2 separate regions of the Homo sapiens genome follow, and region 1 is reported to be linked to region 2. The links are microRNA targets in miRTarBase. Many come from high-throughput screens and were not tested one by one. Region 2 holds a microRNA gene; the other region holds the end of a gene's coding sequence.

Region 1 (5,376 bases), not on the chromosome of region 2:
GAAAACAACTTCCCTCTTCTGAAATGTGGGAACTTCCCCTGACCCCAGATAAAGTTGCTTGACATAACAGTCCCCTGGGTGGAGGGTTTACAACACGACACCCACCCACTCAGCAGGCTGCGGACAGTACAGGAGCTGGCTTTGGTAGTGATGCATCAGGGCAGCTGCAGAGGTGGGCAGAGGTGAGAAGAGAGGACAGACAGAACCAAAACTCAGTAGTGGGGTCGTGCCTGTGAAATGCCACTGCACTCCAGCCTGGGCCACGTCCTGAGAACCCATCTCTTAAAAATAAATAACGAGGCTGGGTGCAGTGGCTCACACCTGTAATCCCAGCACTTTGAGAGGCCAAGGCGGGTGGATCACTTGAGGTCAGGAGTTCGAGACCAGCCTGGCCAAAGTGGCGAAATGCCGTCTCTACTAATAATACAAAAATTAGCCGGATGTGGTGGCGCACACCTGTAATCCCAGCTACTCAGGAGGCTGAGGCACAAGAATCGCTTGTACCCAGGAGGAGGAGGTTGCAGTGAGCCGAGATCATGCCACTGTACTCCAGCCTGGGTGACAGAGTGACACTCCATCTCAAAAAAAATTTTTTTAATAACGAAATAAAAGAACAAGTAGATTTAAAACAAATCAAAGAAACAGGAAGTGAAATCAGCTCCGACCTCTCCCACCACCTGCTCTCCTCACAGTCTCCTTGCTATAAGCACCTGTTCTCAGACAAAACAGGAAAGATTCTGCTATTGATTAAGGGAGCTTATTGATCAATAAATTGATCGCAATCCTTGTATTTTAGGAGGCTGAAGCAGGAGGATTGTTTGAGACCAGGAGTTTAAGCCCAGTCTGGGCAACAAAGCAAGACCCCTGTCTATACAAAAAAAAAAAAAAATTAAAATTAGCTGGGTGTGGTGGGGGCACACCTGTAGTTCTAGTTATACAGGAGTCTGAGGACGGAGGATTTCTTGAGCTCAGGTGTTTGAGGCTTCAGTGAGCTATGATTACAACACTGCACTCCAGCCTGGGCGACAGAGTGAGACCTTGTCTCAAAAAATAAAATAAGGCCAGGCATGGTGGCTCACGCCTGTAATCTTAGCACTTTAGGGGGCTGAGGTGGGCGGATCACTTGAGGTCAGGAGTTCGAGACCAGCCTGGCCAACATGGCAAAGCCCTGTCTCTACTAAAAATACAAAAATTAGCCAGGCATGGTGGCACGTGCCTGAAATCCCAGCTATTCAGGAGGCTGAGGCAGAAGAACCAGTTAAACCTGGAAAGCAGAGGTTGCAGTGAGCCGAGATCACGCCGCTGCACTCCAGCCTGGGCAACAGAGCAAGACTCTGTCACAAAAAAAAAAAAAATAAATTGATTGGTTTGGAGAATGTCTACCCACCCTTGGATGCAATTCAGGGATTGTCCAAAGGGAATACTATGTTGAGTTATGCCTAGCTGGGAGTAGTACCAGCCCTCTAATTGGTATTTTTTGGTTGTCACATGGCCAGGGCAGGAGGGTCGGGTGGGGGTCACTCTGGCAGTTTGTGAATGTTATGGGCCAAATTGTGCCACCCCTCCCAAATGCATATGTTTAAATTCTAATTCCCAGGACCTCCTAATATGGCTGTATTTGGAGACAGGATCTTTAAAGTGGTCGTTGTAGGCCCAGCACAGTGGCTCATGCCTGTAATCCCAGCACTTTGGGGGACCAAGGTGGGCAGATTGCTTGAGCCTAGGAGTTCAAAACCAGTCTGGGCAACATGGTGAAACCCCGTTGCTACAAAAAATACAAGAATTAACCAGGCACGGTGGTGCACACCTGTAATCCCAGCTACTCAGGAGGCTGAGGCGGGAGGATGCTTAAGCCTGGGAGGTGGAAGTTGCAGTGAGCTGAGATCACACCACTGCACTCCAGCCTGAGTGACAGAGCGAGACCCTGTCTCAAAAACAAAAGAAGAGGAGGAGGAGATTAGGACCCAGACACACAGAAGGAGAACCAGGTGAAGACACAGGGAGAAGAGGATCATCTACAAGCCAAGACAGGAGGCCTCAGAAGAAATTAACCCTGCCAACACCTTGATCTTGGACATCCAGCCTCCGGAACTGTGAGAAAATGCATTCTGTTGCTGAAGCCACCCAGTCCTTTGTTATGGCAGCCCCAGCAAACTAACACACAGTAGACAAGGAACACCCAACATAGTGGCATTTTGAGAAGCACTAACATTGCAAGAGCTAATAGCCCAGGAAAGTCCACACAGAAGTAAAGTGAATTTTTATTTTTATTTATTTATTTGAGATGGAGTCTTGCTCTGTCACCCAGGCTGGAGTGCAGTGGCACAATCTCGGCTCACTGCAACCTCCGCCTCCTGGGTTCAAGCAATTCTCGTGCCTTAGTCTCCTGAGTAGCTGGGATTACAGGCACATGCCACCACGCCCAGCTAATTTTTTTGTATTTTTAGTAGAGATAGGATTTTACCATGTTGGCCAGGCTGGTCTCGAAATCCTGACCCCAGGTGATCAGCCCACCTCAGTCTCCCAGAGTGCTGGGATTACAGGCGTGAGCCACTGTGCCTGGCAAGTAAAGTGAATTATATCATCAAAGACGTTACAACCCACAGATAGCTCAAGGGCACGTGCTGGCAGATAGGTCCATCGTTGTCCTGTGTGGATATGACCAGGTTATGGCCTGCCTGGCCACACTATGTAGGGGTCTTGCTTTTCAGCTGGTATGCCTTTCTAGAAGTTCCATGGGCCAGCCAGGTGTGAGGGTGAACGCCTGTAGTCCCAGCTACTTGGGAGGCTGAGGCAGGAGGATCACTCGAGCCCAGGAGGCAGAGGGTGCAGTAAGCTATGATTGTGCCACTGCACTCCAGCCTGGGTAGTAGAATGAAACCCTATCTCAAAAAAAAAAAAAAAAAAAAAAAAGGATAGAAGTTCCACGGGCCAAGTCTTCTGGCAAAAGTCTGATTCTGCCACTTAGCTTGTGCAAACCTCACCCAAGACATTGAGAAAGTTGCTGGTCAAAAATAATTTTGATGGTTTCTGGGTTATTTGTGCTGTTTGAGACCAGGAAGGAAGCAGTGTCTGGAGAGGACGACATGGGGTGAATATAGAAGCTCTCCTGTCTTCTCCGCTGATGTTCTGTATTTTTAGGTTTGTAATTTGCAATGATGTGGGGACTACATGAGACCAGCCCACTTAATGTATTTCTGTGCGAGGCAGATCTAGAGGTCTAGCTCAAAGGGAAATTTTTCTGTCACCACTTTCAAAGCTTTTGTTTGGAAAAAAAAAAAAAAGGAAAAGATGGGGAAAGTAAAAATAAAAATAAAAATATCGGCCAGGTACGGTGACACATGCCTGTAATCCCAGCACTTTGGGAGGCCATCACGGAAGGATTGCTTGACCCCAGGAGTTTGAGACCAGCCTCGGCAACAGAGTGAGACCTCATCTCTATAAAAATAATAATAATAATTTTGAGCCAGGCACAGTGGCTCACACCTGTAATCCTCACAATTTGGGAAGCCCAAGTAGGAGGATCCATTGAGGCAAGGAGTTTGAGACTGGCCTGGGCAACATAGTGAGACTCCCTCTCTTTAAATGCTACAAAAAATTGGCCAGGCATGGTGGTGCGCATGTGTAGTCCCAGCTACTCAGGAGGCTGAGATGGGAGGATCACCTGAGCCCAGAAGTTTGAGGCTGCAGGAAAAGGAGCCCAGTCCCAGCTCTTTGTGGTTCACAGGCGCCAGGATATTTCATCCCAGGTTCAACACCAGCCCCAGGGTCCTCAGGGCTAGTATCACTTCCCAAGAGTCATGATCAGGAACTTAGTGAAGATCCTTTCAACCCCAGAAGTGGGAGACCTCCCACCACCAAGCTCTGAGCATCCTCCCAGCTCACCATCTACTAGGGCAAGCCCAAGTCCTCACTCTAGAAACAGCCTGACTTGCACCCCTGGGAACTTGCTGCATCCAGGGTGCCAATCCTGTTTGAGGCACATCTGTGTGTCCACTCACGAAGAGGCAAGGCCGTCCACGAAAGGGCAGGAGATTCTCATCTCAAAGAGACACTCAGATATGGACCCCCAGCCTCGGCCCTGGGCTTCAACAGGAACATTTCCGCTCACAAATCCAATACGTAGTTTTGTAGCAAGAGAGATCATTCCAGGTGCCACCTTTGTTCATGGTAGCACAGTCCTCATCGTGGATGTTATTGGGTTCCTCTGGCTCCCAGAAGCTGGATGGAGGAAAAAGTGGGCAGAGGGACAGGGATCTTTAGGGTGGTGAAACTCTTCTGTATAATACTGTAATGATGAATACCTGGCACTACGCATTTGGCAAAACCCATATTAGGCCGTGTGTGGAGCCTTACACCTGTAAGCCGGGCACAGTGAGCCACCGTGCCTGGCCCTTAATCAATTTCTGGTTTTGGGGGGTTTTTTGTTTTGTTTTGTTTTGTTTTGGAGACAGAGTCTCACTCTGTCGCTGAGGCTGGAGTGCAGTGGCGTGATCTCGGCTCACTGCAACCTCTGTCTCCTGGGTTCAAGCAATTCTCCTGCCTCAGCCTCCCAAGTAGCTGGGATTACAGGTGTCCACCACCACACCCGGCTAGTTTTTATATTTTTAGTAGAGACGGGGTTTCACCATGTTGGCCAGGCTGGTCTTGAACTCCTGACCTCAAGTGATCCGCCCGCCTCAGCCTCCCAAAGTGCTAGGATTACAGGCACGAGCCACCGTGCCTGGCCCCTTAATCAATTTCTGAATCTGGTCAGTTTCTGTCTTGTCTTCCAAGGACTCTTTCTTTTACAACCTCCCAACCCAACCTTCTAGGAATTGTTTAGATCATGTGGGCTCTTGCTTAAAGCAGGGCCTGATTCAGGGACTCGAGTGTGTAGGATTTATTAAAGGATGTTCTTAGGAGAGAGGTGAGGGAAGCTAGATGGAGAAGGGGAAGGAATTGAGCAGGAGCATGGACTCAGATGACTCTAGCCTCAGCCTGACCCCAACAGAGACCACTGGGATGTCAACAGCACCAGAGTCATCCCAACTTGTCACAAGGGGTCCAGGCTTCTCTTAGGCTGTCACCGGTTGTGAGCTGACCCCAGTGGAGTTGGGTAGTGTCTTAGGTGAGCAGGCTCCCATTCAGCTGAGAATAGCTTTGCGGAAAAAGCATTCCTGTGAGCCTTTAGCAGCCAATGTTCCGCCAGGTGCGGTGGCACACACCTGTAATCCCAGCACTTTGGGAGGCCAAGACGGGTAGATCACCTGAGGTCAGGATTTCGAGACCAGCCTGGCCAACATGTTGAAACCCCGTCTCTACTAAAACTACAAAAATTAACCAAGCATGGTGGCGGGCGCCTGTAATCCCAGCTACTTGGGAGACTAAGGCAGG
Region 2 (5,376 bases):
TACAGCCCACATCGTAGAGACAGGCCAGCCCTGTGGAATCACGTTGGTTTTTGAAAGGCACAAATGAAAAGATACACTGAGAAGCTTTGGAACACAAGATACATTTTATACGCCCTTTGCAGGGTCGTATTCAGCCAGAGTCCGCCACATTACAGACATAGAAGATTTTCAGGGTCTTCATGGAATTCTTGCTGGAAGTAACTGGTGCGTTGTTTTTGAAGCTTCCTTTGATCTTGAATTGGGTCTATCAGGTAAACACACTGACCTGTCTTCTTAGCAGCCAATTGCTGGTGACCTTTCCACAGCTTGTGTCCATCCAGGAGTTCAGCAAAAGCCTGGCCTTTCCTCCTGCTCTGAGCCCAGCTCTCTACCAGCCGCTTTGAATCCTTGCCTGGATGGTACCTACTTCTCTGCAGAGGCAAATCAACACAGTAGTGTCATGAATCTGTACTAGTTTATTAGTTTTAGTTTTCTAGGACCGCTGTAACAAATCATTACAAACTGGGTGGTTTAACATAATAAAAATTATATCCTCTGCCAGTCCTGGAGAACAGGAGTCTGAGAACAAGGTATGGGCAGGGTGGCATGCCCTCCGGAGGCTCTAGGGGAGGACTCTTCCTGCCTCTCCCAGGTCGTGGGGGCTTCAGATATCCCTAGGCTTGTGGCCATATCACTTGTCTCTGCCTCTGTCTCTATGTGGCACGTGGCATTTTCCTCTGTGTCCATGTCTCCTCTTCTGTCTCTTAGAAGGACACTGGTCATTGAATTAAGGCCACCGTAAGTCAGAATAATCTCATCTCCAGATCTGACTTTAATTACAAATCTGCAAAGACTATTTTTCTAAATAACGTCATATTCCGGGTTCTGGGCTTTATGATGTGGATTTATCTTTCTGGAGGCAACTGTTCAATCCACTACAATTGTATCCAGTCCTTTCCAGAGATGCTAGAGGAGGAACCTTCCTGCCTCTCCCAGCTCCTGGGGGCTCTAGGCTTCCCTGGGCTTGTGACCACATCACTGCACTCTCTACTTCCATCTCCACGTGGCCTTCTCCTCTGTGTATGTGTCTTATCTTTTCTGCCTCTTAGAAGGAATTTAAGATTACAACTGCTGCTAGATTTCCCCTTATTGCTCTGGTTAAGGAGTCCGTGGAGTCTCCTGTAGTATGAAAGGTTTCGTTTTACATTGCAGTCCCTTACAAGGAGGGCTTAGGCCAATGTCTGTGCTGACTTCCCTTCTACATCTCTGGATTCTGTCTCACCGGCTCCCTGTCATTTCCCCAAAGATGTCCTCCACCCACCTCATCCTACTCTTCATCCCTGCAACATCTGTCCTTTTTTTTTTTTTTTGAGACAAGATCTTGCTCTGTCACCCAAGCTGGAGTGCAGTGGTGCGATCATAACTCACTGCAGCCTTGATCTGAGTCCAAGCGACCCTCCCAGCTCAGCCTCCCAAGCAGCTGGGACTATAGGCGCTTGGCGATTTTTTGTTATTTTTTTGTAGAGATGGGAGTCTCCCTATGTTGCATAGGCTGGTCTCGAACTCCTGGGCTCCAGTGATCCTCCCACCTCAGCCTCCCAAAGTGCTGGGATTACAGGCGTGAGCCACCGCACCCAGCCGACACATTTAAAGAAATGTTTTGGCAACTTATCAAATACCCACAGATTGGATCTAATCATTTAAAAAACACAAACTTGGTTGTAGACTTTCTGTCCTTCTGAGGCCCCATGACTATGTAGTCCCAAACTATTCTCGCCGATCACAAAGGAACATTCTGTTTAGGGCTACTTTTACCTTTGCTTAGACCATCCCTTTATTCAATTAATGTTTGAAACATCATACAGTGGGGGAAACAGCCATGCTATGGAGTGCGCAATGTTTGTTAAAAATTAAACAACCACTCACCCCTCCTTGCCCCAGTGACCTTTTCTTATCTAATCTTTTTCTTGGCACCGGTAAAGAGAACAGCCTTTCTTCACATAATCGCTCCATGGCTTCTCAGCAGAACATAACCAACCGCCTTGCTGAGGTGGCCTAGGGTGACCGGGTCTTCCTATCTTTTGTGCAGAGCTCTTGTCATGCGCAGGAGTTTGGGGAGATGCCCCCCACCCCCCCGCAAAAGGTTTCCTATGGCTTTAAAATAAGAGGTAGTTCAGGAACATTAACTGTTCACTTTACATTTAAGATATGATCTCCTGGAGATGTTGATGTGCCAGCTGGTCTTGTTGAGAGGCAGTTACTGATCTAGCAGGTGTTTATAGATTTTACACCTGTCTTGTTCTTTTTTTTAAAAAGAAACAACCTGCAACTAACTAACTTTATTTCGTATGTTAATGAGACAGATGTGAAAGAACACAAAATCAAAATGCTTCCCAGGATTCACAGCTCTAGTGTTCCTTGGCTTTATGGTTTGGAAGGAAAGCTGATTTATATAGGCAGAGGCTCTCTATATAGGTCCTTACCTCCCCTGTCCTGTTGTTTTGGAATGTGAGCAGAACACACTCAGGTCTACTGTATGAATAGGACACCCTGCGCCCTGAAATTCCATCAGCTTCACAGATCTCTCGTGGATTCTCTCAGAGTGATGACTCCCTCTCCCTTTCTCCAGTGTCTGAACACTACGTGGTAAGGGACTTTCCACGCACAATATTACTCTCAGCAGACAGAAGATGCTTTCCTGGAGAAGAAAGCGGCAGTATCTTCCAGAGGCAATTGGAGTTTTCAAATGTTGGTGGAGTTATGGGGTTGAAGGCTCCAGCTTTACTGGGTAGAGTCTCACGCCTCACAGTGCGCTTGCCCTGGGGCCCACTGGCTGTGTGTGGGTGCTTGTCCTCAAAACTGTAGCAGCCCAGTGCCCCTGGAGAGCCACTTTACCCAGCATCACTATTAGGTGCTCTGCCAGCTCTGTGGCATGGAGAGGAATTGTCTGGTAAGAACGGAATGTTTTCCATTCTCTCCATCAAGAACTCGAAAGGCTGATTGACAGGTGCAAACGCAAATCTGGTCATCTAGGCTGAATTACAAGATGTCTGGTGGAAGTTAAGAGACTTCAGGAGGTATTAAGAGGGATGGAATACCTGGAATTCCTTGGGGGCCAGGAGAGTTGAGCCATCCTCAGAGATGTGTGCATACTGCAAACCTCCTTTAAGCCAGGGCACTGGTATTGTGGGAAGCCCAGTTAGGGATTAGAGGGATTCCAGAATTAAGATCAACAAAGCAGTCTGACACCCTTTGGGGTGCCAGAGATTATCACTTAGATTGAGGACAGGGGAAAGGGGGTACACTCAACTCAATTGCTTCCTATAAAATCTTACAGACATCAATGATCCCAGAGGATGGGGAGCTACAGTGTCATCTCAGATCATTTTCCAAGGGAAGGATAGATGACCCCATAACTCATTATCTCTAAGAGAGAATGAGATTCCACATGCAAGATAGGAATCAAAACCCTTTTCACCACCTTCATTGACTCAGTTATGCAAATGGCCCTAGCTCATAGCCTCTAAGCCCAGAGCAGACAGTGCATCCTGGTTGCTGATTGCATACCTCCTGATGGGTTGTAACTGTGTGCTTTACGGAGGGCTAGTGTAAACATTCTCATTGCAAAGCGTCTTGCATGGATGAGCAGACATAGAGTGGCATTTGCCGGAGCTGAGCACCCCTGACTTCAGAGTTCACGTTTGGCAAAGTGATTTGTTGCACTACTTGGCAATTGAAGCATCCCGAATAGCTTTGTTTTATGGGGTGGGGGGCGGGGGCGAGGGGAAGAGAGTGGAGCTTTCTGTCTCCCTACTAATCAGGAGGGTCCTTGTTTGGGCTTTAGGCCCCTTCCCTTGTTTTCTGGGCAGAGGAATTGCCCCTAGGAATCCTCTGCAGGCCCTGCCAGTTTCAGAGCTCCCTCATTTTCATCTCTCCACTTCAATGAGCTCATTCACTAAGGCTTTCCCACAGCCCAGGATCTGACTTGGGTGGGCCTGCTTGGGTTTTGTGTGCCTCTGTGCCAGGAAGAGAACAGGCACAGGGCTCTGCTTGGCTATTGCCGGCATTCCTGGGCTAGTGCGTCACGGGGTCTCATGGTGACAGCATTCCACTGGAAACACGGAGTCCCGGAACCCAATTTTGAAAGGAATCCTCTCTAAAAATCTTTCAGGAGGGAGAAAACAGAGATTTCAGAGAGTTAACAGTGCTCCTCAAAACAGCGTTTGTCAAGGAAATTAGTAGCGACTTGTATGACACCCTCTTTCTCCTGTGATTTCACTTTCCTAAATGTTGATTGCTCCGGGGTGTGGGGCTTTTTTCTTCTATACCCAAAGCCACCTAGTAGAAGGGTTAAGTGCATAGACTTTTTCCAGGCGATCTCTGTGTTCATAAAGAGAAGTGGGGAAAGGGCTCTAGTGTTTCAAATGTAAAGTAACCATTGTTAGGAAAATGACTTATTCTTTCTTTCATTCATTTATACAAATGTAAGTTCTGGCTATGCTTAGCTACTCAAGGGAAATCAGAGGCAACTGGGTCCTCTAGGGATGTTTAGCAATATCTGGACACGTTTTTTATTTGTCCTCGCTGGGAGGTTGTTCCTGGCATCTAGCAGGCAGAGGCCCAGCGATACTACAGGGCACATGCCAGCTTCCCATCATAAGAAATATCTCCTTCCAAATGTCAATAGTGGTGTTACCAGAAAGGGGTCTCTATCCAGACCCCAAGAGAGGGTTCTTGGATCTCGCACAAAAAAGAATTTGAGGTGAGTCCATAGAGTAAAGTGAAAGCAAGTTGATTAAGAAAGTTAAAAAAAAAAAAAAAAAGAATGGTTACTCCACTGAGCTGCTCCACCGAGGATACTTATTATTACTCCTTCATTATATGCCAAACAAGGGGTGGACCATTCATGAGATTTCCAGGAAAGGGGTGGGCTGTTCCTGGAGCTGAGGGTTCCTCCCTTTCTCAGACCATGTAGTGTAACTTCTGGATGTTGCCATGGCATTTGTAAACTGTCATGGCGCTGGCGGGAGTGTCTTTTAGCATGCTAATACATTATAATTAGCATATAATGAGCAGTGAGGATGACCAGAGGTCACTTTTGTTGCCATCTTGGTTTTGGTGAGTTTTGGCCGGCTTGTTTACTGCAACCAGTTTTGTCAGCAAGGTCTTTATGACTTGTATCTTCTGCCGTCCTCCTATCTCATCCTGTGACTAAGAATGCCTAACCTTCTGGGAATGCAGCCCAGCAGATCTCAGCCTTACTTTCCCCAGCCCCTATTCAAGATAGTGGAGTTGCTCTGGTTCAAACGCCTCTGACAGTGGGATGGTTGAGAAACTTGGGGGTAGACCAAGGGCAAGGCAGCAATCTCAGCCTGTGGAAAACATTTTAGTAGATGC

The links. Region 2 holds the annotated microRNA hsa-miR-4770 (UGAGAUGACACUGUAGCU, at 3,342-3,359, opposite strand). A microRNA usually pairs through its seed, bases 2 to 8, with sites in the 3' UTR of a target mRNA and lowers its output. Matches are read on the target gene's strand: a 7mer-m8 pairs with bases 2 to 8, a 7mer-A1 pairs with bases 2 to 7 and ends in A, and an 8mer does both.
Region 1: the mRNA of CLEC17A is a reported target of hsa-miR-4770. Seed matches in the 3' UTR shown: 7mer-A1 at 3,648-3,654 and 7mer-A1 at 2,281-2,287.

What each region holds. Positions count from the first base shown.
Region 1 is chr19:14,608,909-14,614,284 of GRCh38, reverse strand. CLEC17A (C-type lectin domain containing 17A) reads right to left here. Exons shown (of 14, transcript NM_001204118.2): 14 at 2,250-4,221. The coding sequence ends at 4,089. It also overlaps a transcript of ADGRE3 not described here. Among named protein-coding and RNA genes, the nearest start is that of SNORA104, 11 kb to the left of the region's middle. RefSeq lists a silencer at 10-59.
Region 2 is chrX:6,380,566-6,385,941 of GRCh38, forward strand. It overlaps MIR4770 (microRNA 4770), which reads right to left and starts at 3,398; the gene lies at 3,341-3,398.